Linked DNA regions of Homo sapiens. The protein of the gene in region 4 purifies or fractionates together with the protein of the main gene of each other region. This does not show direct contact. Each region holds a gene or a part of one and is shown on either strand. Other genes may lie near its edges.

The links.
Region 1: the proteins of KRR1 (region 4) and KRI1 purify together in Homo sapiens (affinity purification with mass spectrometry; 3 studies listed by BioGRID and IntAct, with this or other methods). This does not show direct contact.
Region 2: the proteins of KRR1 (region 4) and MAK16 purify together in Homo sapiens (affinity purification with mass spectrometry; 2 studies listed by BioGRID and IntAct, with this or other methods). This does not show direct contact.
Region 3: the proteins of KRR1 (region 4) and ZC3H8 purify together in Homo sapiens (co-immunoprecipitation; 2 studies listed by BioGRID and IntAct, with this or other methods). This does not show direct contact.
Region 5: the proteins of KRR1 (region 4) and EPB41L5 purify together in Homo sapiens (co-immunoprecipitation; 2 studies listed by BioGRID and IntAct, with this or other methods). This does not show direct contact.
Region 6: the proteins of KRR1 (region 4) and RRP1B purify together in Homo sapiens (affinity purification with mass spectrometry; 2 studies listed by BioGRID and IntAct, with this or other methods). This does not show direct contact.
Region 7: the proteins of KRR1 (region 4) and YBX2 purify together in Homo sapiens (co-immunoprecipitation; 2 studies listed by BioGRID and IntAct, with this or other methods). This does not show direct contact.

The regions. Positions count from the first base shown.
Region 1 is NC_000019.10:10,559,511-10,563,010, forward strand, and holds part of KRI1 (protein KRI1 homolog), read right to left. Parts: intron 3,328-3,500; coding exon 3,219-3,327; intron 2,336-3,218; coding exon 2,281-2,335; intron 2,207-2,280; coding exon 2,157-2,206; intron 1,756-2,156; coding exon 1,659-1,755; intron 1,571-1,658; coding exon 1,493-1,570; intron 939-1,492; coding exon 802-938; intron 427-801; coding exon 300-426; intron 199-299; coding exon 103-198; intron 20-102; coding exon 1-19.
Region 2 is NC_000008.11:33,495,182-33,498,471, forward strand, and holds part of MAK16 (protein MAK16 homolog), read left to right. Parts: intron 1-360; coding exon 361-435; intron 436-1,443; coding exon 1,444-1,560; intron 1,561-2,050; coding exon 2,051-2,116; intron 2,117-3,250; coding exon 3,251-3,290.
Region 3 is NC_000002.12:112,214,036-112,217,042, forward strand, and holds part of ZC3H8 (zinc finger CCCH domain-containing protein 8), read right to left. Parts: intron 2,434-3,007; 3' UTR 1-2,433.
Region 4 is NC_000012.12:75,494,610-75,498,109, forward strand, and holds part of KRR1 (KRR1 small subunit processome component homolog), read right to left. Parts: 3' UTR 1,054-3,500; coding exon of another isoform or gene 968-1,053; 3' UTR 1-967. Other genes in the region: GLIPR1 (glioma pathogenesis-related protein 1 precursor), read left to right, coding at 968-1,053. UniProt on the Homo sapiens protein: Part of the small subunit (SSU) processome, first precursor of the small eukaryotic ribosomal subunit.
Region 5 is NC_000002.12:120,075,577-120,079,076, forward strand, and holds part of EPB41L5 (band 4.1-like protein 5), read left to right. Parts: intron 1-124; coding exon 125-177; intron 178-1,394; coding exon 1,395-1,515; intron 1,516-1,652; coding exon 1,653-1,740; intron 1,741-2,916; coding exon 2,917-3,005; intron 3,006-3,500. UniProt on the Homo sapiens protein: Plays a role in the formation and organization of tight junctions during the establishment of polarity in epithelial cells.
Region 6 is NC_000021.9:43,666,060-43,669,559, forward strand, and holds part of RRP1B (ribosomal RNA processing protein 1 homolog B), read left to right. Parts: intron 1-3,500. UniProt on the Homo sapiens protein: Positively regulates DNA damage-induced apoptosis by acting as a transcriptional coactivator of proapoptotic target genes of the transcriptional activator E2F1.
Region 7 is NC_000017.11:7,287,763-7,291,639, forward strand, and holds the end of YBX2 (Y-box-binding protein 2), read right to left. Parts: intron 3,815-3,877; coding exon of another isoform or gene 3,770-3,814; intron 3,421-3,769; coding exon 3,331-3,420; intron 2,774-3,330; coding exon 2,489-2,773; intron 2,310-2,488; coding exon 2,206-2,309; intron 1,964-2,205; coding exon 1,768-1,963; intron 1,077-1,767; coding exon 1,026-1,076; 3' UTR 987-1,025; intron 882-986; 3' UTR 501-881; downstream 1-500. UniProt on the Homo sapiens protein: Major constituent of messenger ribonucleoprotein particles (mRNPs). Involved in the regulation of the stability and/or translation of germ cell mRNAs. Binds to Y-box consensus promoter element.

The DNA.
Region 1 (3,500 bases), on a different chromosome or scaffold from region 4:
CCTGCTTCTTTGCTTTCTCCTGCAGGCCCAGGCAGAGAGGGGGAGGGCATGGGCTTTCCTCCAGGGCTGGGGGGTCCTCCCCAGCTCACCCCCCACACTCACCCTCTTCTTTCGCTCCCGAGTCTCTTCCCTCTTCTCCTTTCTGCGCTCATCCTTACGGCGCACGGAGGACGCGATGCTGCGTGGGTAGGTCTTGACCTAGGCGCAATCAGAAAAGCCCACAAGGGCCGCAGAGATGATGTGGGGTTCCCTGGGCCTGAACCCTGGGGGCTGAGTCCTCCCCAGCCCCAGCCACACACCGATGCTGAGTCCGGCTCCTCGAAACGGAAATTGTACTTCTGTTCAAAGTCCTCCTGTTTCTTCAGAAACAGCTCCCCTTCGTCTGAGGAGTCGTCCACAGCCAGCTGGACTGGGGGACCGTGGACCCTGAGGGGCAAGATGTGGTGATGCCAGGGGGCCAGCCAAGTGAGGTCGAGCCCCCCTTTCCTGCACGCCTGGGTACGAAGCGTATGAACTCATTTAATCCTCACAAGAACCCTACAAGGTGCACGCTGCTATTGTCCTCATTTTACAGATGGGGAAACTGAGGCATGAAAGTCTTGAAGCCGAACCAGGATTTGAGGCAGTGCCACCTGGCTCCAGAGCCTATACTCTGTGGCTCTGCCTTACAGAAGACTAACTCTGCCACCATCTGTGAAAAAAATACACACATGGTGCCCTCTGCCTCCTGGCCAGTGCCGCCTGGGAATACTTCATGAAGCGCACCCAAAATCTAGGTCCTGGGGAGATGCAGTGGCTCACCCCTCCTCTTCCTCCATTTCCTCTTCATCTTCCTCCTCCTCTTCCTCCTCCTCATAGCGTTTGTTGAGGATGTAATCCCGCAGGAACCGCTCCCCTTCATCCAACTCAGGGTCGTTCCAGTATTCCTTGAGATGCGTCTGGGGGTGACAGGAGACAGGACTCTGGTCAATGGAGGACAGGGAAGGAGGGCAGGCATGCTCACCACATGGACCTCACAGCCAGCCTCTGGAGTAGGTGACATTAGCCCCATTTTGGTTTCTTATTTTTATTTCGAGACAGGGTCTTACTCTGCCATCCAGGTGACAGTACAGTCGTGTGATCATAGCTCACTGCAGACCCAACCTCCCGGGCTCACAAGATCCTCCCACCTTAGCCTCCCAAGTATTTGAGACTACAGGTGCATGCCACCATGCCTGGCTAATTTTTTCATTTTTTTGTAGAGCCATTTTGCTATGTTGCCCAGGCCAGTCTCAAACTCCTGGCCTCAAGCAATCCTCCTGCCTTGACCACCCAAAGCACTGGGATTACAGGTGTGAACCACGGCACCCAGCCTATCCCCATTTAAAGAGATGTAGGAGCTGAGGCCCAGAGATGTACATATCCCATCTTCAGAGGGTTACTTTCTGTAAATAGGTTGGATGGACGCGGAACACGCGGTCTACTCCATCAGCGACCATGCGTGAGAACTCACCAGTTCCTTCAGGGAATCTGGGTTCCGAATCTCTTTCTGTCCCTTCAGCCACTCGATGTAGTCGGCCTCCTCCTGGGCCTGGGGGAAAGCTAGCACTGAGCATCCGCAGATGCCCAGCCACCCGCCACCCTGTCCCCCAGCAGTCCAGTCAGGCCCCAGTACCCACCTTCTCCTGCCTGGTTTTGGCACGTTTCTGCAGCAAACTGGAGCCGCCCTCCCCAGCGCCGTCCTCGTCCTCACTGTCCTCCACAAATGCCCGGAAGCTGCCCACGAGAGAAAACAAGCCTCAGGACAGGCAGGCTGGCCCCTGTCTGCTGCCCCAGTATTTATTTTATTTTGTAGAGCTGGGGTCTCACTATGTTGCCCAGGCTGATCTTGAACTCCTGGGCTCAAGTGATCCTCCCTCCTCTGCCCACCAAAGCCCTGAGATTACAGGCATGAGCCACCTCACCTGGCTGGCTGCCCCAAGATTAACCCCATTTACTAAGCCCTGAGCTCTCCTCTCAACAAGCTCAGAGCAGTGCTGTGATGTTATTAACCCCGTTTAACTGATGAGGAAACTGAAGCACATAGAAAGTGACAGAGCTCAATTTGAACCCGTGCCTATCCAACCCCCGAGCCTCAACTTTCCTCCATTGGGCCATTCCCGCCCACCCAGCCTCACCTTTCCTTGAGCTGTTTCTGTTCCTCCACATAACTTTGCGACGATGTCTCCTGCAGAGAGGGCCATAGGTCTCAGGCCAGCCCCAGGCCCCTCAGCCCCCCGACCCAGCCTTCACCCCACCCACCTGGAGTCTGTGATTGGAAGTCTCCCCGTCTGAGTTCTCCTCATCAACATATTTGCTGTAAAGGAAAAGTGGGGTCTTCAGAATATATCTTCCAGGGCCCGCCTGTCCCCATGCCCATGCGGAGCAGCTATTCCAAGCAACAGCTGGCGGGGGTCATCGGAGGGCTATGGAATCACTGAGACTCCTGCTCTCAGGGCTATCTGCGATTCTGGTGAGTTTCCAGCGTTTTTTTTTTTTTTTTCTTTTCCAATCATGGGTGACAGCATTTCTTTTTTGGAGCCAGGGTCTCGCTCTATCCCTCAGGCTGGAGGGCAGTGGCATGATCTCGGAAAACTGCAACCTCCACCTCCCAGATTCAAGCGATTCTCCTGCCTCAGCCTCCCCACGTAGCTGGGACTACAGGCGCCCACCACCACATCTGGCTAATTTTTGTATTTTTAGTAGAGACGGGGTTTCACCATGTTGGCCAGGGTGGTCTCAAACTCTTGACCTCAGGTGATCTGCCCGCCTCAGCCTCCCAAGGTGCTGGTATTACAGGCATGAGCCACCATGCCCGGCCTTTTTTCTTTTTGAGACAGGGTCTTATTCTGTTGCCCAGGCTGGAGTGCAGTGGCCTGATCATAGCTCACTGCAGCCTCCATCTCCTGGCTCAATCCTCCTGCCTCAGCCTCCTGAGTAGCTGGGACTACAGGTACACATCATCATGCCCAGCTAATTTTTAATTTTTTTGTAGAGGCGGGGTATGTTGCCCAGCCTGGTCTCAAACTTCTGTCCTCAAGCGATCCTATTGCCTCAGCCTACCAAAGTGCTGGGATTATGGGCATGAGCCACCATGCCCGGCCCAGGCTGCCAGCTTTTTTCCCTCTCCTGCCCCTAAGACCCCCATAGACCTGACAGGGCTGGGAACCAGGGGGTGGGGATGTAGGCCTTCTCCATACCCTGCCTTCTCCAAGATAACCTTCCTCTCGTAGTCCTTCAGGTACATGGGCCGCACTTTCTTCTGCTTCTCCAAGGCTTCTGGGTCCTCCTCACTGTCTGATGACGATGCTGTTAACCCACCAAAGACACCTGCCATCACCCACAACCCCCTTCTTTGCCGTGGCAGAGAATCCCACAGGGCAGGGCCAGGGTTAGACAGAGGATTCAAATCCCAAATCCACCAATTCCCAGCTGTCCAAGAGTATTGTGCTTGTCACCATCTGGTGGGGTTGGGGTCATTC
Region 2 (3,290 bases), on a different chromosome or scaffold from region 4:
GATTTCTGTTCTCTTTTCTCAGCTTTTACAAAGTCTGGCTCCAGAGTTGCTAGATTATTTCTGAGACACTTAAATGTATATAGACTTACATGCTTTGTATCTATCAAAGCCTGTGTTAGAATTTAATTTAGAATGTTGTTTACAAAACCATAGGAATTTCAAAATGGAAATGTTCCCAAGGAAGTTTACAAGAGAAAGAAGAAGAAATCTATCTCGTTGGAAAGGCAAAAGCCAGTATTAGCAAGGAGGGGAAATAATTACATTGTCTTTCTTATAAACAACTTGGTAGTTTCTTCCATTTTTATAAGATGAGTAATGAGCACTGATGAATTAAACAGATTTGCTCTTTCCCCCTTATAGGAAAAGGCATTAATAGCTGCTCAGCTGGACAATGCCATTGAGAAGGAATTACTGGAGAGACTGAAACAAGATACGGTGAGAAAGCCATTAGCTTTGGGGTACTGAAATTTTAAGTGGTAGTATGTTGCTAAGACATATTGGGAATTTTTTTTTTTTTTTTTTTTTTTTTTTTTTTTTTTTTTTTTTTTTTTTTGAGATGGAGTCTTGCTTTGTTGCCCAGGTTAGAGTGCAGTGGTGCAATCTCGGCTCACTGCAACCTCTGCCTCCCAAGTTCAAGCAATTCTCCTGCCTCAGCCTCCTGAGTAGTTGGGATTACAGGCACCACCACTGCACCCAGCTAATTTTTGTATTTTTAGTAGAGACAGGGTTTCACCATCTTGGCCAGGCTGGTCTTGAACTCCTGACCTCGTGAGCCACTGTGCCTGGCTGGGAAATGTTTTTTAACATGATATGAAGATCTCCACTCGAATTTTATCCCTGGAATAAAATAAATCCATATCGGCCTGGCTTCCTTGCTTTAATTAATGCAAGCACATAAAATGCTTTGGTTACCCTTGATACTCCATTCACTATAAGAGACCTTTCCCTTTTTGCCATTATTCTCAGCTCCATTCCCCAAGACAACAATTCCAGATTTCTGTATAAAAGCCATGGGGTTTTGCTTCTCCTGCATATTACCCTAGTCTTTTAAGGCTCTTTGAAATAAGTTTTTATTCTCTTTTTAAAAATTAGTGTTGTTTATACAGACAACATGACTAAAGTATGCTTTTTCCTTATTATTTCCCCTTGTCAGCAAAATGACATTTGTCCCAATGCATGGGTTTTGTAGACTATTACATTTTAAATTATTTTAAAATGTAACTCCATAGAAGTTACCTATTTGATACTAACTGCAGATGATTTAAATGTTCAAAAGAACATGCTTTTTTAAGACACTGCTGGCTCTACACTTAAAAATATTACTCATCAAATTAAGTATTCTGATTTAATCACTGAGGAAAAAGTAATATTCTCCACAGAAAGTGGAACTTCAAGTGTAATATCCAAATGTAGTTAAAGCCAATCTGTGTTTATGTTCTTCAGTATGGCGACATCTACAACTTCCCCATTCATGCCTTCGACAAAGCCCTGGAACAACAGGAGGCAGAGAGTGACTCTTCAGATACTGAGGAAAAAGATGATGATGATGATGATGAGGAAGTAAGTCTTGTTTTTGTTTTGCCAAACCTACTAGATACCATTTGTATAAAACTGAGAAACAGAATATCATCTTCAGTCCGCTAACCAAAAATGATATGTCTTCTTTTTTCTTTCATGTGATTAATTTTGGTTTAGCACTGGTTGCTCTGTTCTTCAGGCTAACCAACAAACCATTAACAATTTTAGTCTTAATTTATTGGTCTTCTAAAATTGTTCCTGCAAGGTGACAAATTATAAAGCCTTTCCTGTCTATATGTAGTTTTTAACCATAATGAGGATGTTTTATTGCTAATAATTTAAATCAAGAATAAGAATGATCTGGTAGCCCTAAAATTTTTAAAATTCAGAAGCATTAAATTTAGAAAGAACTAAATTTTCATTGCCTAGTGAAAAGACTGTGGTTCTCATTATGTTATTTTGTACTTACTTAGATGTCTAATCTGAATCTTCATTATGTATTCTGAACCTAACAGTTATGTTTTATTTATAGGATGTGGGGAAAAGAGAATTTGTCGAAGATGGTGAGGTAGATGAGAGTGACATAAGTGATTTTGAGGTGAGCTTTATGGGTAAAAAGATTGTCCTTTGGCCTGCAGCAAAAAAAAAAAAAAAACAAAAACAGGGAGGTGGCCAGGCACCGTGGTTCACTCCTATAATTGCAGCACTTTGGGAGGCCAAAATGGGAGGATTGTTTGAGCTCAGGAGTTCGAGACCAGCCTGAAGAACATAGTGAGACCTCATCTCTAATAAAAAAAAAAATTTTTTTTTTTAGATGAAGTTTCGCTCTGTAGCTCAGGCTAGAGTGCCATAGTGCAATCTGGGCTCATCGCAGCCTCAGCCTCCCGGGTTCAAGCGATTCTCCTCCTTCAGCCTCCCAAGTAGCTGGAATTACAGGCATGTGCCACTCCACCCGGCTAATTTTTTGTATTTTTAGTAGACACGGGGTTTCACCATGTTGGCCAGGCTGGTCTAGAACTCCAGACCTCTGGTAATCCGCCTGCCTCAGTCTCCCAAAGTGCTAAGATTAGAGGCATGAGTCACAGGGCCTGGCCTAAAATTTTTTAAAAATCATGACCAGGCGTGGTGGCTCACGCCTATAATCCTAGCACTTTGGGAGGCCGAGGTGGGCGGATCACATGAGGTCAGGAGTTCGAGACCAGCCTGGCCAACATAGCAAAACCCCGTGTCTACTAAAAATACAAAAATTAGCTAGGTATGGTGGTGCATGCCTGTAATCCCTGCTACTTGGGAGGCTGAGGCAGAAGAATCGCTTGAACCTAGGAGATGGAGGTTGCAGTGAGCTGAGAGCGCACCACTACACTCCAGCCTGGGCAACAGAGCGAGACTCCGTCTCCAAAAAAAAAAAAAAAAAAAATTAAAATTCAGCTGGATGTGGTGGCGGTTGCCTGTAGTCCCAGCTACTCAGGAAGCTGAGGTGGGAGGATTGTTGACTACAGCAGTTTGAGGCTGCAGTGAGCCATGACTATGCCACTGCACTCCTGCTTGGGCAACAGAGCAAGACCCCGTCTCAAAAAAAAAAAAAAAAAAAAATTAAAGAAAGGGACAATTTCTGAACACAGACATAGACAAATCAATGCCCTAGTCTGTTCTAGATTGAGGGGACAAGGAAGGGAGTTTGGAGAAATCTAGTGTTTTCCCTCTTCCTTTATCTTTTCTCTCCCCGTAATAGGATATGGATAAACTGGATGCCAGCAGTGATGAAGATCAGG
Region 3 (3,007 bases), on a different chromosome or scaffold from region 4:
CCTGGGGTTCACACCATTCTCTTGCCTCAGCCTCCCGAGTAGCTGGGACTACAGGTGCCCGCCACCTCGCCCAGCTAATTTTTTGTAATTTTAGTAGAGATGGGGTTTCACCATGTTAGCCAGGATGGTCTCGATCTCCTGACCTCATGATCCGCCCACCTCGGCCTCCCAAAGTGCTGGGATTACAGGTGTGAGCCACCGCGCCCAGCTAAGAATTGTTTTTATGAAATTATTGAGAGATTTTGCCTCCTGCTTCCTTTCTGGTATTGAGAGGTAAGTAGTTGATCACTTTATCCCGTTTGCTTTGGCTTTAAAGACGGTCAAGGATAAATTCAATAGAGCCATGATAACCATGCTGGCCAAATAAATCTGTGCAGATTTTTCCCATACAACTTTCTGGCTTTATTTCTCCTGGTTTGAATTTTTTAGACTATGGTTTTATTATATATATATTATATATGCTTGGAGCTGCATCAAGGGTCAGTGAGATTTACTTCACAGGAGGAAACCAAGGGGAGCAGAGGGAAGTAGGAAGCCCGGCTTGGTATGGCTACAATGGCTAGGTGATAGAGTACTTTGGACGAATGGCTCTTGAGACGAATGGCTCTTGGTTCAGGGAACGGCACAGTGGGGGCGTGGCTGAAGCAGTATACTCGGAAATCTGCTCTGAGGAACCAGAGCAAACTGTACAGAGGAAAGGGGAGAATGGAGGCCAGTGATTGGCTGTGAGGTGCTGCCATAACCCAGGTAGGAGAGACCCACAGGCTAGCAGCTGCTTTGAGAACACAGGACACATTCATGAGAATCTCTGTCTCCTAACTTGATTCAACACAAATTAAGATATTTCACTTACACAGGTATGCTTGTTTCTTAAAACAATTAATTTGAAAAATAAGAGGTTTTTAACCTACTCTATTTGACTTCTGAGTCCCTCAAATCTCTGCGGTGTCTTTTAAGTTTACAAGTGAGATGGGTACTGCCTCAGAAATATAACAATTATTTTTTTCCTTATATATAAACTTTATATATAAAATCTATACTTTATAAGTATCAAACTATTATACATGAGGTAATATTAGGAAGTAAACTGCTAGACTGTAGTATAAGATTAACTACAAGTATTGACAAGGCTCATGAAAATTAAAAAATTAAGCATTCCTATTTATTCCCTTTCTATGCAATGAATTGCATTATCCACTGTATAAGGTTGTTATGAGACTTAAATAAGAAGTGCCTTGCCCACCTCCCGAGCCACAGCTGAGAAGCGAACCAATCAACCTGGGCAGACAGCAAAAGGGCACTGAGAGATGACTTGCTCTCCATTCCTCAGTTTCCTGCTTCTAAGGGCCTAGGATTTACCCTTGTTTCCTGCTTTCTTTCGTCTTGTCTGATAAACCTTTGCTTGGAGTATATGCAATTCCCTTTCTTGCTTTAGCAGGATTAGATAACAATGAAAATAACTTTGATTCCTATTTTCAAATAGGACTTTGCTAAGAAGTATCACTAGCTTTGGTGTACTCTGTATGTCCAGCAAGTTGGTAATACTATTACTTTTCCCAACAATAAAACAATATAATGACGAGTTTCCATTTCATGGTATTTGTCTAATAATAACCAATAATCAATATTACTATATAAAACTGCATATTTAGAATCTCATTATTATTTGTACTTGGAACATTAGTATTTGAATCTTGTGTTAATGATACCATCACACTCCTAAAGTTTGTAACTCACACAAGTGTATAATCTGACTACAGTTTATAAACCAATGAGAAAGATAAATATTCTTATATTTTAACAACAGAAAAGTTACGAACTCTAAATTTAGAAATGGTATAGTAAGAGATATTGTTTCACTTTATTTATAATAGTAAGAAACTGGAAACAAATGTCTAACAATAGGAAACTGGTTTAAAAAAATCATAGAACCATAATTTATTTTAAGCCCTAAAATGAAATTGTGAACCATTAAAAATATGTTGTAAAACTATTTAATGTCATAAAGAGAACTAACTCTGTTTTTATGGTCCATCTACCAATGTCTTCCGAGCAGTTCTCTCTCCTCAAACCTCCTCTACCTCTTTACTCACCCTCACTCAGCCTAACCTTGCTTCCGATTTTATTAAGGAAATCCAATCAATCAGAAGAGGTTTCTACAATTTACTATCACATTTACCCACCAGCCATCACCTCTGCCATATATGCTCCTCTCCTATTCCAATGGCTGGAATGTCTCAGGGAAGACCAAGCCCTTCACTTGTACATTAGATCCCAGCTCTCTGTCCCATCCATTATGGAAGCTGCACATCACCCCAGTCACACAAGAGGGCACTCTGAATGAGGAATCTTGTAAACTACTCCAAATCACCAGTCTTGAACAGTCTTGAACACGCATGGGCGTTAAAGTACTCTTTATCTGTACATTGCTACCTACAGAAGAAAACAGAGAACAAAAACACATCAGCTCATGAAAATTACCAGCAGAGCCGCCCTTACTCCCAGTTCTCATCTCCCAAAACAACAACAACAAAAAACATATAGCTGAAGAAAACAAGCAAAAATCCAAACAGAATTAAACACCCCTCTTTGGGAAAATTAAAGAACATTCTGAATTGAAATTCAAAAACTAAGATTAGAACTGAAGCAAAAAAAAAAAAAATACAAATAATGAGACAAGAGTTGACTAACCTCAGACATGGCAAACAAGAAAAAAATTATATTACAAATGAAGACTATATTACAAGAAAGAATAAATTTGAATGGAAACATGATAAACATTATCGGACAAAAGCAGAAAGAGAACAAAAAATGAGATGAAGAAAGAAAAATTTAATAGAAAACAAAGAAAACACATTATAGAGAAAGAAACACAGTAACAATAAAATGACAGAAACTAAACCAAACATTTGGTAATTTCAACAAATGTGAATGGTCTTAATCCACTTATCAAAAGAAAAAGATTTTTGGTTGAGCCCGCAGAGCAAAACCCAACTACATATGTTCC
Region 4 (3,500 bases):
AACAAACTATGTTGAGAAAGAGCCCATAGGCCTCACCAGACTGCCAAAGGGTACGATTACACAAAAAAGTTTAGAACTTTTTCCAAAAGCAGAGTTCCAAAAAAAATTAGTGCAATGGCAGGTTCATTGAGATAAATGTGCCCCCTCTCCCCATTACTACTATGAGGATATTTATGGGGATATAAAATGCTTGGATATTATTTCACTTTCTAGTCTGTGACCTTGGTCAATTACTTATACTCTGTGACTCAGCCTCTAGCTATATAATGGGTATAAATAGACAACAGTAACTTCCTCATAGGGTTTTTGTGAAGATTATTTCATTCAAGGTTGTTTAGAACAAAGACAAGCACATGGTAGTGCTCACTAATTAGCAGCTATTATTCATATCACATCTTGTATGTGAAAACAATTTGTACTTTAGAAATTCCCCCATACCATTATTTATTATTTTTTTGGAAGGCACCAGCCAAATGGCTCCTATCCAGTGAAAATTATGGAGGGCTGACCAACTGAGAATATTGAATGTGGGTCACCATAGCTTTTCTAAGATGGACAGTTTTTTAAATGGCAGTAATCATATAGGCCAGAGGGTAGGTAAAGAGAGGGAGCACAGCCCTGGAGTTAAATCCAGGTTTCCTCTGACTCTGAAGTGTATAAATTGTGATTAAAGGTATCTCTTACATCTTTTGTCTCATCTGTAAAACAAGAATAACTTCCTCTCAGAGCTGTCACAATTAAATGGGATGCAGATTAAAACAGGTGCATAGACACAGGTACATAGAATGAACTATGCAAATATTAGCAGCCTTCCATTTCTGCCTTCCTGTCTTCACTTCTATTACCAACTCTCTGGACCTTTGTACTTCACTCCACTATTCTTCTGGATTTAGTTAAGGATTCATAGTAAATTGCAATTTTAAAAAACCGAAAAACTTCTAATGGACATCCTTCTTCTGCTTTACAGAGGGAATTACCCAACTTGGCCATATAAGAGAGGAGCCACCTGCAGTGCCTGCCCCAATAATGACAAGTGTTTGGACAATCTCTGTGGTGAGTAAAAGGAACAATACACCAATAGAATAACATAATAGTAACATGTAACTTTCTACAGAATTAACAATGAAACCATGTTTTATCTTAACGGCTATCTTCAAGGAAACTGGCATCAAGTAGCAATTAAACCAATGGCTTACTGTTCTAGGAATACATTTAAGAGAAATTTAAATGTGAAAATCACGTTCTTTTTATTTAGTTCTAATTGGTCAAACAACAACAACAAAAAAAACTGTCAGAAACTGTAGACTAAGATTCCTAAGATTTGCTTATTTCAGCAAGATCAAAAATAAGTATAACAGGTCATCCAAACAAACAGAATTCTGTTTTCGTTTTTTTTTTTGTTTTTTTTTTTTGAGACAGAGTCTTGCTCTGTCACCCATGCTAGAGTGCAGTGGTGTGATCTCAGCTCACTGCAACCTCCATCTCACGGGTTCAGGCGATCCTCCTGCCTCAGCCTCCCAAGTAGCTGAGATTACCATGCCACCATGCCCAGCCTGGCCAACATGGCAAAAACCCCCTCTACTAAAAATACAAAAACTAGCTGGGTGTGGTGGTGGACGCCCGTAACCCCAGCTACTCAGGAGGCTGAGGCAGGACAATCACTTGAGCCCAGGAGGTGGAGGTTGCAGTGAGCAGAGATTGTACCACTGCACTCCAGCCTGGGTGACACAGTGAGGGTCTATCTCCAAAAAATGAAAATAAAATAAAGCTGCAACATGGCACTTTTTATTAGCCAGACAGCATTTAATGAAGAAGTGTAGAAGCTGCAAGCAGTTAAATTTCCAAGGATGTTTTACTAAACATCCAAGCAAAATTCTGCTTTGTGATTTTGAAATATTAGTAAGTGACCAAGAGTTTATTTCTTGTTCTTGTTCTAGACACAAACCCTTCCATCCCAGTATGTTTTTTTACCATGGTGTGAAGGGGAAACTTCAATTAAGCTGTGCAAAGCCTGTGGTACTTTCGTGTCCATATTTGTAACAAACTGAACTCAGAGCAGCCGGGCTAGAGTAGGGTGCTTAGAATAGAGGAAGGACAGAGTCGGCCAAGTTCCACTGCACGAAATTTAGTTTGGAAAAAAGTGTTCCATTGCTCATGTTTTATAAGGTCCCTTGCAGGCCTAAAATTATAAAATTCTATATATTAAACTGCTTGCTCTCCTCCTTCCCATTTAATGTTGAATACTTATCTTTACATACAGTCGTACTTTTGCAAAGTTTTCTGAGCCATTTTTCTCCCAGTCCAATCATTCTTTATTTCACTTATATCACTCTTGTGAAGAAAAGTAACATGTAGCCACAATGCAGATAATATCAAGGTATCAATGTATTCACTGAATTCTTCCTTTCACTCACTCTTCACTTCAGAACGTATATATTTCTTCCTTCCAAATTAACCAGTATACATAAGGGCTAAAACTATGGATTTCAGAACCAGTATGCCAAGTTTTGGTGCAATTTCCAGTTTGACCACTGTGACTTTGGGCAAGTTTCTGCTTCTATTTTTTTCAACGAAACAACCCAGTGAAAAAAATGTTTCCCTTTAAAAATCTAGGCAATTAGTAACACTACCACCACCACAATGACAAAAATACTTCTGGTTTTAGCTTTTGATCTTTGGTGATCTAACTTGAGATGCTCTTTAATCTTGGGGAATAACATTTAGAAGATTAAAGCTGTAGTCCAATAATGAAAACCCTTGGACTCTTGAGAAAACACATGCTAACTTGTATTTATAAGATGTGAAACTCATTACCCATTTACTTCAGATAAGTGCTCAACATCTTACAGATTGATCTTGTCACTAATTTCCTATTCTCAGAGCTAGATTTATGTAATTTGTTTTCATGTAAGTTTAGGCTTACTTGAAAGTATTCTACTCTTCGCACTAATACTGAATAAGTAAGATTTGTGACTAAAAAACTTAAGAATCACCATTTGACCTTTTATAAGGTCTGATGAAGGTAAAGGTTAGAGGATAAAAGCTTTTATTTAACAGATTCCTTCTCAGACAAATTATGGCAAGCACTGGAGCATAAATTCCTTCGTGGTATTCCTTCGTGGTCTCCTAGATACTGCTGGTAGTTCAATAAATACCCTTGGAGGCCAAATCAGGACTGTTTTACAAAATGTGCTGGGCATATTAGTGGTACATAAGATGATTTTAGCTAGTTCACAGATGTACATTTGTTTCAATAGTTGAATATTGAACATTTAAAAATATATATAAAAAAAAATAACTAGAACATCACACTCTTGATTTCATCGACATAACTGCCAAGAAAAGTGAGGGTAGCATATTTACAGTAATTCACCACAAAGCCCACTCACAGGTATGAAGACCAGGGATGCTCACCAGTACCCAGAGGACCAGATGATTGATGGGTTCTACCACGAGCATCTAATAGCGACTGCTGCAGAACTGGTGTGGAAAAGGTTTCT
Region 5 (3,500 bases), on a different chromosome or scaffold from region 4:
TTTTGAAAATAAGTTTATAGTTGTAAAAAAGAAATGGTCAACATAAAACATGTATTATTTTCATTTGTCTTAAAATGAAGGTTATGAAATCAACTTGTCTAACAAACTTGTGTTTTGGTCTCAGATTAGACTGTCCCTTTGATACAGCAGTGCAATTGGCAGCTTATAATCTGCAAGGTAAGCAATTCTTATGTTGACTGTTAAGACTCAAGTATAATCTTTTTTGTGTGTGTTTTTAGTTAAAGAAGATTCTAATTATGTGCAAGAAAAGAAACAACACTGTTTTTGTATAAACTTGTATCAGGGTCCAACTCTGACTTTTACTTGTTTTAGAACATTGCCTTCTTTTTCTTCTCTTTCATGTAATTGCGCCCTTTCCACCTAAAGTGTTGAAACGTCATACTCTACCTGATAAGTCTGTAAATGCTAAGATTGGGCCTTCGGCTAACTTTTTCCTTAAAAGAAATGCAGTTATGTAGGAGTGAATTGTTGGTGAAGCCATATAGCTTAGCAGTCCTTTTGCTCCAAACCTACATTTTGTTCAGAAATAACCACAGATGAGTACATACATGTTTGTGCATTGTTCAGATTTTTCCCTGCTGCTTTCTCCCCCCGATTTTTTTTAGTTCCTTTCAGTTATTTCTTTAGGATTAATAATTTTAAAATTTTGGAAGACAGGGACTATATTTAGATTGGTATATGGGGTCATATTCAGTGTATATCAGTATATTCTTTTGTTTTGTTTTTTTTTGAGACAGGGTCTCACTCTTGTCCCCAGGCTAGAGGGCAGTTGCATGATTGTAGCTCTCTGAAGCCTTGAACTACTGGGCTCAAACGATCTTCCTGCCTGAGTAGCTGGGTCTACAGGCCATTAGGCCTGGCTAATTTTTGTACTTTTTTTTTTTTTTTTTTTTTTTTTTAGAGACGAGGTCTTGCTATGTTGCCTAGACTGGCCTGAAACCATCTTCCACCTCAGCCCTCCCAAAGTACTGTGACTATAAGCATGAACCACCACACCCAGCCTTAGTAATATTCTTAATAGATGCCAGTTAATTGTCTTTTAACGATTGCTAAATTTTTTCATTTATTCACTATAAGGTCAGAGGTATTTCTTTATGGAAGTCTAGAAAGCAGTTTTCAAAGGTTAAGTAAGCACTGAAGTGTGAATACATTAAGAGAAAGATATGTAATTAAAAATACACTACCAAAAATAAATATGAGATATATGTGTATGACTAATATGCCAGATTTACTTTTGGAGACTTGTCTGAGTATTATGAATTTTTGTAAGAAATTCCTAAGAATCTTTCTAATCTTAGCAGTTTTCATTAATGAAATGGTTTTTGAAGGATTTAGCAGGAAATACATATAACTTTTGAAACTTATGTTTATAGCTGAACTTGGTGACTATGATCTTGCTGAGCATAGTCCTGAACTTGTCTCAGAGTTCAGATTCGTGCCTATTCAGACTGAAGAGATGGAACTGGCTATTTTTGAGAAATGGAAGGAATACAGGTATCTGGCGTTTGACCATACTTTCTTTAAAATCACCACAACAGTTATTTCATATTCATTTTCTTCTGTTTCTATCCTTGGTATAGAATTTATTTTATATTTATTGTTACTTTAAAAATCATTGTTTTAAATTTCAGAGGTCAAACACCAGCACAGGCTGAAACCAATTATCTGAATAAAGCCAAATGGCTAGAAATGTATGGGGTTGATATGCATGTGGTCAAGGTAAGCATTGTGTTGTGATGCTTTTTTAAAAATTTATTCTTTGGAGGTTCGCAGTGACTGTGGAATTTTTCAGTATGAGGGAGGGCATGGAGTTTGCATAAGCTAGCACTGGGTACTTTGGATGTATGGTTAAAAAGTTTGAGATTAAATACCAAATGACTAGAATCTCACAGAAAGGTTCATTATAAGAAAGAAGAGAAGCAACCAACATCCCTAACAAGGTACTTGGTCCTTTTAAGCTGTTATTTTATTTTATTTTATTTTTTTGCTATAAAAAATTGTTTTAAGCTTTTGAGCCATTTGTTATCCTTTTTACTTCCTGTTATACGACTTACACTGAGTAGGCTCTGTTAAAATAATTCAGGATGCAAAGTTGAAGATTTATAGCTTAAAGACTTTGATAAACTTTAGAACAGCTTTGTAGTGATTTAAGTTATTTCTAGTTTAACTAGTAACATTTTTCCAGAAAGGCGGTTGTATTAGTTCATTCTCGCACTGCTATAAAGACATAAATTTATAAAGAGGTTCAATTGGCTCATGGTTTTGCAGGCTGTACAGGCTTCTCCCTCTCAGGAGGCCTCAGGAAACTTATAATCATTGGGCAACGTGAAGGGCAAACAGGCACATCTGTACATGGCTGGCAGGAGGGAGAGAGAGCAAAGAGGGAGGTGCTACACACTTTCAGACAACCAGATCTTGTGAGAACTCATTCACTATCATGAGAACAGCAAGGGGGAAGTCCGTCTCCATGATTCAGTCACCTCCCACCAGGCCCCTCCTCCAATACTGGGGATTACAATATGACACAAGATTTGGGTGTAGACATAGAGCCAAACCGTATCAGCAGTCTTTTCCAAAATACATGATTTAAGTGGTAAGTATAATATGGGAAGAATGTGGAAACAGCTTTGTTTGTAGTGGGAGTGTAACTACCCACTTTCAATGAAGATACACTTTAAAACTCTAGTGTTTCAATGACTAGAAATAAAAATATATGCATAAATTTTTCTGAGAATATTATTATGGATACTCTAATTGTTGAAAACATCTCATATATTAATATTAGCCTGTATATAATTAATACAATTCAATACAAAAATAAAATTTAAAAGTTGTGTCAATGTGAAACCTGTTTTGTACAAATAAAGCTAACACATTTTTCTCCCCTTAAATTAGGCTAGAGATGGGAATGACTATAGTTTGGGACTAACACCAACAGGAGTCCTTGTTTTTGAAGGAGATACCAAAATTGGCTTATTTTTTTGGTAAGCAAGAGTTATTGTCAAAGATACTTACTGTTGTTTTGGTTTTTAATGAGTAAATAAAGTTAATACATAAACAAGTTTGGAAATCAAATAGTTTTGAAAAACTTGTCAATGAAAGCAACTGTCTCCTGTCACACTATTACGCATCATTATTCCTACTCTCCAGAGGCAATTATTAAAACTCTTCTAGCTGTATTTCCCATTAGTTTCAAAGTATACCACAATCTATATCTTGATATAAATATTTATATTTTTATATGTATCAGATGTTCACATGGGCACTTTCTCCCTCCATGTAGTCATGTCATTGCTTTTAATATTTATTATTCCACAATCCCTTTACCCCCTATTGTGTAAGAGGAAGATACTAATATTTTTATCCCTTCTCTAAGCTGTGCTCCTTATACTGTTCCAGCTTTTATCGTTCATACTTTTAAATTACATTTATGTTTTACTTTTACATCAAGGATAGATTTTACTTGGATTTCTTGGCCA
Region 6 (3,500 bases), on a different chromosome or scaffold from region 4:
CACCTTCAAGCAGGGTGTGGAGGGACTCTGTGGTCTGGGTGGGGCTTACCCCACGTGGAGAGGCGGCGGCTTCTGCCAATTCAGCAGAATTCCCTTGGCCACAGGACAGGTTCAAGAAAAGCCAAGTGACCCTCTGCAGGTAAAAATCTTCTTGCTCAGTCCTTAGGAGTTTCTAGCTCTCTCCTTACTGGACTTGAAGAGAACACACAGTTTGTACCTGCTCCCAGCCACCTTGTAACACAGGTGGAGCCTGTCTGAGAATGGAGACAATCTTTGGGGCAGCAGAGGTTGCAGTGGAGAAAAACAAGGTGCTGGCACCAGCAGTTGAGCTCCTGCACAAAGTTGTGCTTCACTTTCCCCCTTAAAACTAGCATGGCTGCCAGGCCTGGTGGCTCACGCCTGTAATCCCAGCACTATGGGAGGCCAAGGTGGGGGGATCATGTGGTCAAGAGACTGAGACCATCCTGGCCAACATGGCGAAACCCCGTCTCTATTAAAAACTACAAAACTTAGCTGGGTGCGGTGGCAGGTGCGTGTAATCCCAGCTACGTGGGAGGCTGAGGCAGGAGAATCGCTTGAACCTGGGCAGCAGAGGTTGCAGTGAGCCGAGATTGCACCACTGCACTCCAGCCTGGGCGACAGAGTGAAACTGTCTCCAAAAAAAAAAAAAAAAAATCCTTAATAGCATGAAATATCCAATCTGTTTAGTTTTTCTCATCAAATGTTTTTTATGAGCAATCCAAATGAGGACCACCCACTGCATTTGGTTAATATGTCTGCCAAGACGCTCTTAAAATCTAACAGTTCTTACCCATCTTTTTCTGTACAGTTTATTTGTTGGGGACATAGGTCATATGCCTTGTAGAGTTTCACATATTTGGGGTTTGTTGACTGCATCCTGTTGTCTCACTTACCATGTTCCTCTGTCCCCTGTATTTCCTATAAACTAATATTAATAGTTAAGATTTGACACAGTTGGGTGTTTTTTTTTTTGACACTTACTTTTGTAAGAATACTTCATAGGTTGGTGCAGCGTTCTTCCTGTTGGCATCACCTCTGGCATCTGATGCGTGATTATTGCCTGTGCATGTTAATGATCGGTCGGTGGGTTTGGGTGTTGATGGTCTGACACATCCACTTTCAAGTTTCTTAATATCGTTTGTTTGTTTGTTTGTTTGTTTGTTTGAGAGACAGAGTTGCTCTGTTGCCCAGGTTGGAGTGCAGTGGCACGATTATAGCTTACTGCAGCCTCAAATTCCTGGGCTCAGGTCATCCTCCCACTTCAGCCACCTGAGTACTTGGGACTACAGGCACATGCCACCATGCTCTGCCAATTTTTTGGTTTTGTTGTTGGTGTGTGTGTGTGTGTGTTTAAGACAGGGTCTTGCTCTGTCGCCCAAGCTCCATGGAGTACAATGTTGTAGAGATTGGGTTTTGCTGTGTTGCCCAGGCTGGTCTCAAACTCCTGAGCTCAAGTGAGCCGCCACGCCTGGGTGATATCTTTTCATCTAATGTTTTAGCAGCTATTTATGATCCTTGCCCAAAGCCTTCAATTCACTGGGGATATATGTGGTCTTTGAACATGATTAAATATAAGTGCAGGTCACTGTGGCCAAGAAAAAAAAAGTTACTGCAATCATGACCGCAGTTGGCTCAGCTCTAGTGGGGTTTATTACTCATACCATACTTACATTATCCACGTGAGGATCCCCAGGCATGACTTGTTCATAACAAGAGGGCAAGAGAACCAGTTGGTACATCTTCTCTCCAACTGTGAAAGGGAATATACTTTAATAAACTAGTTTTATGTTAGTTCCTGATATCCTGGTTTTACATGGAAAACTATCATAAAAGAATCAAAATGCAGGCCGGGTGTGGTGGCTCATGCCAGTATTCCCAGCACTTTGGGAGGCCGAGGCCAGCAGATCACCTGAGGTCAGGAGTTCCGGACCAGCCTGGCCAACATGGTGAAACCTTGTCTCCACTAAAAATACAAAAAATTAGCCAGGCGTGGTGGCACGCGCCTATAATCCCAGCTACTCTTGAGGCTGAGGCAGGAGAATCGCTTGAACCCAGGAGGCAGAGGTTGCAGTGAGCCTAGATTGTGCCACTGCACTCCAGCCTGGGCAACAGAGCAAGACTCTATCTCAAAAAAAAAAAAAAGAATCAAAATGTACCATTATAAAATTGTTGATGGGAGAAAGACCCTTAGCAAAGTGGAAATCAATACCTGTAAATTAAGGTTAACGCACTCTGAATACACTAAACAAACTTTGGTCCATTAAAAGGTCTTTTTGTCACTTTTTTTTTTTTTTTTAAGAGACGGACTCTCGCTCTGTCGCCCAGGCTGGAGTGCAGTGGCGCAATCTCAGCTCACTGCAAAGTGCAAACTCCACCTCCTGGGTTCACACCATTCTACTGCCTCAGCCTCTGGAGTAGCTGGGACTATAGGCGCCCGCCACCATACCCGGCTAATTTTTTTTGTATTTTTAGTAGAGACGGGGTTTCACTGTGTTAGTGAGGATGGTCTTGATCGTCTGACCCCGTGATCCGCCCACCTCAGCCTCCCAAAGTGCTGAGATTACAGGCATGAGCCACCGCGTCTGGCCCTTTTTGTCACTTTTTAAGCATCTTTTGGAGTATTAAGATCACATTGATTCTAAATATTTGTTTGCATTCATCTAGTTTATAGCACTTTGTTGCTCCAAAAGATTTCTCCTAGGATCTCCTAGTAAAATCCTAATAAAGACCATTTGTAACACACATCAAGACTTGAGGATTCTGTTTGTGTTCTAATTTCATGTATCCATAGGCTCGGAAACTCCAAGACTGTACACCTACCTTATCATTTTGTGATTCTTTATGTCAGTCAGCAAATACTTTATGACACCTGGGGTCTACTCAGGAGATTTAAGGCTGAACGAGACTGGTCACTCAATCATAGATCATGAAGGCAGAGGTAGAGCCCTGAGTAGCTAGAGTCAGAACAAAGCCAACCCTGGTGATGCTGCAGTAAATGATCACCGTTACAGGGAGGGTGATTGACAAAGCCAACCTGGTGATGCCACAGTAAATGATCACCGTTGCAGGGAGGGTGATTGACAAAGCCAACCTGGTGATGCCACAGTAAATGATCACCGTTGCAGGGAGGGTGATTGACAAAGCCAACCTGGTGATGCCACAGTAAATGATCACCGTTACAGGGAGGGTGACTGGGAGGCAGCCACTTTTGACCTTATACTAGGATCCTTAAAAGGTAATTTTTGCAAAAATATTCCAAAGCAGCGTCAGTGTCCCCAGGCCCTTTCCTAGGCCTTTGACTTTCAGATGTACTGTTTGGAGCTCCTGTGTCCTCAGCCTGGCTGGTTTTCTGTTCCTCGGAAGTGGGGCTGCCCGTTGCTGGGGCTTCATATGACTTGAGCAGGTCCCCCGCATCTCTTGTAAGATTTGCAGTTTTACTTCACAAGACCAGCGAAAATGTCAGTGTGCAGGATGGCTGC
Region 7 (3,877 bases), on a different chromosome or scaffold from region 4:
GAAGAAACCAAAGGTCGGTTGTACTAAATGTATATATATAGATACTTCTATAAAGTCACTGCTGAAGACAAGCATCCTATTGTGGAGGTACTTGAGGATGGGCTGAGACAGGGACCATAACTCTTCACCCCTCTTCCTCCCTCTGTCCTGCCTCAGCTCAAGGCCTCAGAATCTTCTGGATGCCATTGCTCATGCCCCTACTCACATTTCTACTCGTTGCTTTATTAATAGTAAATGCTCAATAAATTGTAGCTGCCAGTGCCGGGCATTGCTCTTGGCATTTGCAGAATACTCACTCTGTGAGGGAGGTGTCAGCCCATGTCACAGATGGGCAGTGAAACCCATGATAGGGGCACTCTTCACCAGGGACACAGCTGGAGACATGGCAGCAAGGATGCCAGGCCCTGCCCACGGCCCCACATCCCCTCCTCCCCACCTTCAACAGTGAGTTACTAGCGATTCTCCAAAACAGAAGAGATGGAGACCAAGACCACAGGAAAGCCTGTTTTTGTTTTTACTGGAGGCTCAGGTGGCACATGACAGATCATAAAATGGCTTCAGAGGTAGGGGGCCGGGGGAAAACAAAAATAAACTTGGGGTGGGGGCAAGAAAAGCAACCAGGAGGAGGTAAGAGCTGGCTGGTTCCTTCTCAGCCTGAGTTACGGGAGGGAGTTGCTGTCTCTGAACAGTAAGGATGGCTCCCTTCCTTCAACCCTTGATAAGGGGAGGGAAGAAAAAAGAAAAAGCAAAAGGCTGCTGCTTTGGTCCTCCTGAGTCTCAAGGAAAAGGTGAAAAGCTGGTGTTTTGATGTCATGAATTATGGGAAAGGGGGAGCAGGGTACTGGGTAGGGTACAGGTCATTTGGAAAAACTGGCAGATACCTGAGAGAGAAAAGGAAATGGACGGATTGTGAACAACAGCGACTTGTCATCGCCACCCAGTACCTCACCTTCCTGGCCACCCACCCAACTGCACCAGCCACTCACCAGATGGCAGCTCTGGGTGTCCTCTGAGTTGAGTTGGAATCACTCCAGGATGGTGGTGGTGGGGTCCCCACTGTTGACAGGGGCTGAGGTCTAAAGAACAGCGGTGGCCAATTGAGACTTGTTCTTTTTGTTTTTGAGACAGAGTCTCACTCCAGGTTGGATGGAGTACAGTGGCGTGATCTTGGCTCACTGCAAACTCCCCCTCCCAGTTCAAGTGATTCTCCTGCCTTAGCCTCCCAAGTAGCTGGGATTACAGGCATGTGCTACCACGCCTGGCTAATTTTTGTATCTTTAGTAGAGACGGGGTTTCTCCATGTTGGTCAGGCTGGTCTTGAACTCCTGACCCCAACTGATCTGCCTGCTTCTGCCTCCCAAAGTGCTGGGATTACAGGCATGAGACATCGCGCAGGGCTGAGACTTGTTCTTCAGGGCCCTGAACTTCAACCTTCTTTCACTTTTTCCCTTCCCATTAAAACCTCAATCACACCCCTCAGTTCACATCTACAAGCTGGTAGGATGGCTCCAGGCAGCAAGTGGGGGATGGGTTGGGGGGGGCATGGCCATCATGGGCAATCATGGGCTTGATTGCCTCTGTGGGGGCTTCCTGGTGGGAGGCGGCACCTGCCAGGGGGGGACCCAGCAGGCTGCATGGAAGAGGGTGGTGGCAGGGCCAGGGCAGGGGAGGGGAGGAGCCAAAGGATAGAGTAGGAAAGAAAAAGGAGCAGGTGGGGGAGGGAGCTGGTCTCAGCCTTTTCTTTCATCCCACATCTGAGGTCCTCACCTCAGGGGCTGCGGGCTGCCGGGGGCCAGGGGCCTGCTGGGGGCCAGGGGCCTGCTGCCGTCTCCGCTGGAAGTAGGGGCGGTTTCGTGGGCGCTGGGGCTCAGGCCGGGAACCATCAGCGGGACCTTGGCTGGGCTTGGTCTCACCATCCCCACCTTCTGTGGTAGGCTGCTGGCGTGGCCTGGGGCGGAAAGGCCTAAGGCAAGGAACAAGGCTCTGAGGGGACCAGGGAATACTCCCTCCCCAGGGCTCACCCAGCTGCCCCACCCCACCTCCAGGAGCCAGGCTTCCAGCCCATGAGCACTGCCTCCCCGCAAGGCACCTGTCTCGCCAGGAGCCCAGGCTCTGCCTAGAGCTTCACCCTTCCATCCTCCTGTCCCTTGCCCCAAGGATCCAACACTGGAAGGGGAAGACCAAGCCCCAGCAGGGGGGTCTTACCTTCGGTACCTGGGCCGGAATCTGGGCGGGGGGACTCGCTCATCTCCCTGCTGTTGGTGCCCCTCCAATGGGGCTGTCTCTTTGGGTTCTACCCTGTCAGTGCCCTGGGAACATGCAAAGGCCCCGGTGAGCTGTGGGGACAGCAGCTGCTCTGGAGCCAGATTATCCACAGCTCTGCCCAACCCTCAGTTCCTCCTTCTTTGGGGACCCATGGTCTCTATCCTAACTCCCACTCCTCTCCTGAACTTGGGGAACTGGCTCCCATATTCCAGCATCCCCTCACCTCTATAGGCTGCTGCTGGTTGGGAGGCCGGGGGCCTCGCACAAACCGCCGTCGGTAGAAGAAGGGTGGGGGGCACCATCGTCGGGGCCGTTGCCCAGAGTCTTCAGCCCGCTCCCCTTTACTGCCAGGTCCTGTCCCCGCCGAGGGGATCTCTGCCACCATGGGTGGTGGGGCAACTGAGGGAGGCCGGGGGATGAATCGGCGGGACTTACGTCGGTTGGGGGCATAACGGCTGCCCTTCACGGGTACTCCCCCAGGCCCAGTTACATTAGTGGCTTCTGCGCCCTGGGAAGGTGGTAAGGGAATAGTGAGAACCTGCTCCAACAGCCAATGTGCATTTCCCAACTTGCTTCCCCTTCTTTCAGGGGAAGACCCCTCTCCAGCTTTCCTTTAGCTCCTCTAACTTCTTTCTACCCTCCCTGGAGAGGCAGTGGAATGTGCTTGCACCCATTTGGGAAGGAGCAACATGTCCTTTTGAAATAATTGCTACTGCACCCTCCTGAGTATACGACTGGGTGGAGAAAGGCCTGGCAGCCAGCATCCACCTTTTTACTCCAGAGGCGGACTCGGGAAGTCTAGGACAGGGCCCCACGTGGAGAACGGATGTCGAAGTGCTTGGTGAACTAGAGAAGAAACCCAGACACTGCCGACCGATGACAGGGACATACTTAGGACATCCCTTAGCCCTAGCATTAAGGAAGAGGACATCAGGGTGAGAGAACACAGTCCCATTCCCGCAGAACGGGTCAGAGCTGGCCCCAGGAGGGTCTTAGCCTGTGATGACCTCCAGGCCACCCTCCCGTAAGCCTAGTCAACTCTATACCCCATAGCAGTCCCCAAACCTTCTCTCCTTCCACGACATCAAATTCCACAGTCTCCCCATCTCCAACGCTGCGCAGAAACTTCCTGGGGTTGTTTCTTTTAATAGCTGTCTGATTGGGGAAAAGGCCATGTGAAAAGTGAGACAGCAAGACAGGAGTCTCTGTCACCCCTGCTGGGGCCACCACCCAATTTCATTCTTTCAACATTTGACTTGGGGTCTAGAGCTGGAGGGTGGAGCAAGGAGGTGGTCAAAGTTTAGCAGGGGAAAAGTCCTGAACTCAGGGCCTCAGCAGATTGTGCAGTTACCACCATCCCCAGGATGCACTCCCCGCACCTCCCCTCCCGCCCCGCTTTACCCCTCAGGGATTTCAGAAAGGGAGGCAAGAAATATGAACTCCAAAGCAAAAGGCAGGGACAGCCTTCAGTCGCAAAGTGGGTAGAATGCACTGTGCTTCTTACCTCAGTCCCAGTGAGAGCTCTTTCCACCAAGCAGTGGTTCTCAAGCTGTAGCGTGCATCAGAATCACCTGGAGAGCTCGTTAAACCGATTGTGGAGCCCCAGCCCCAG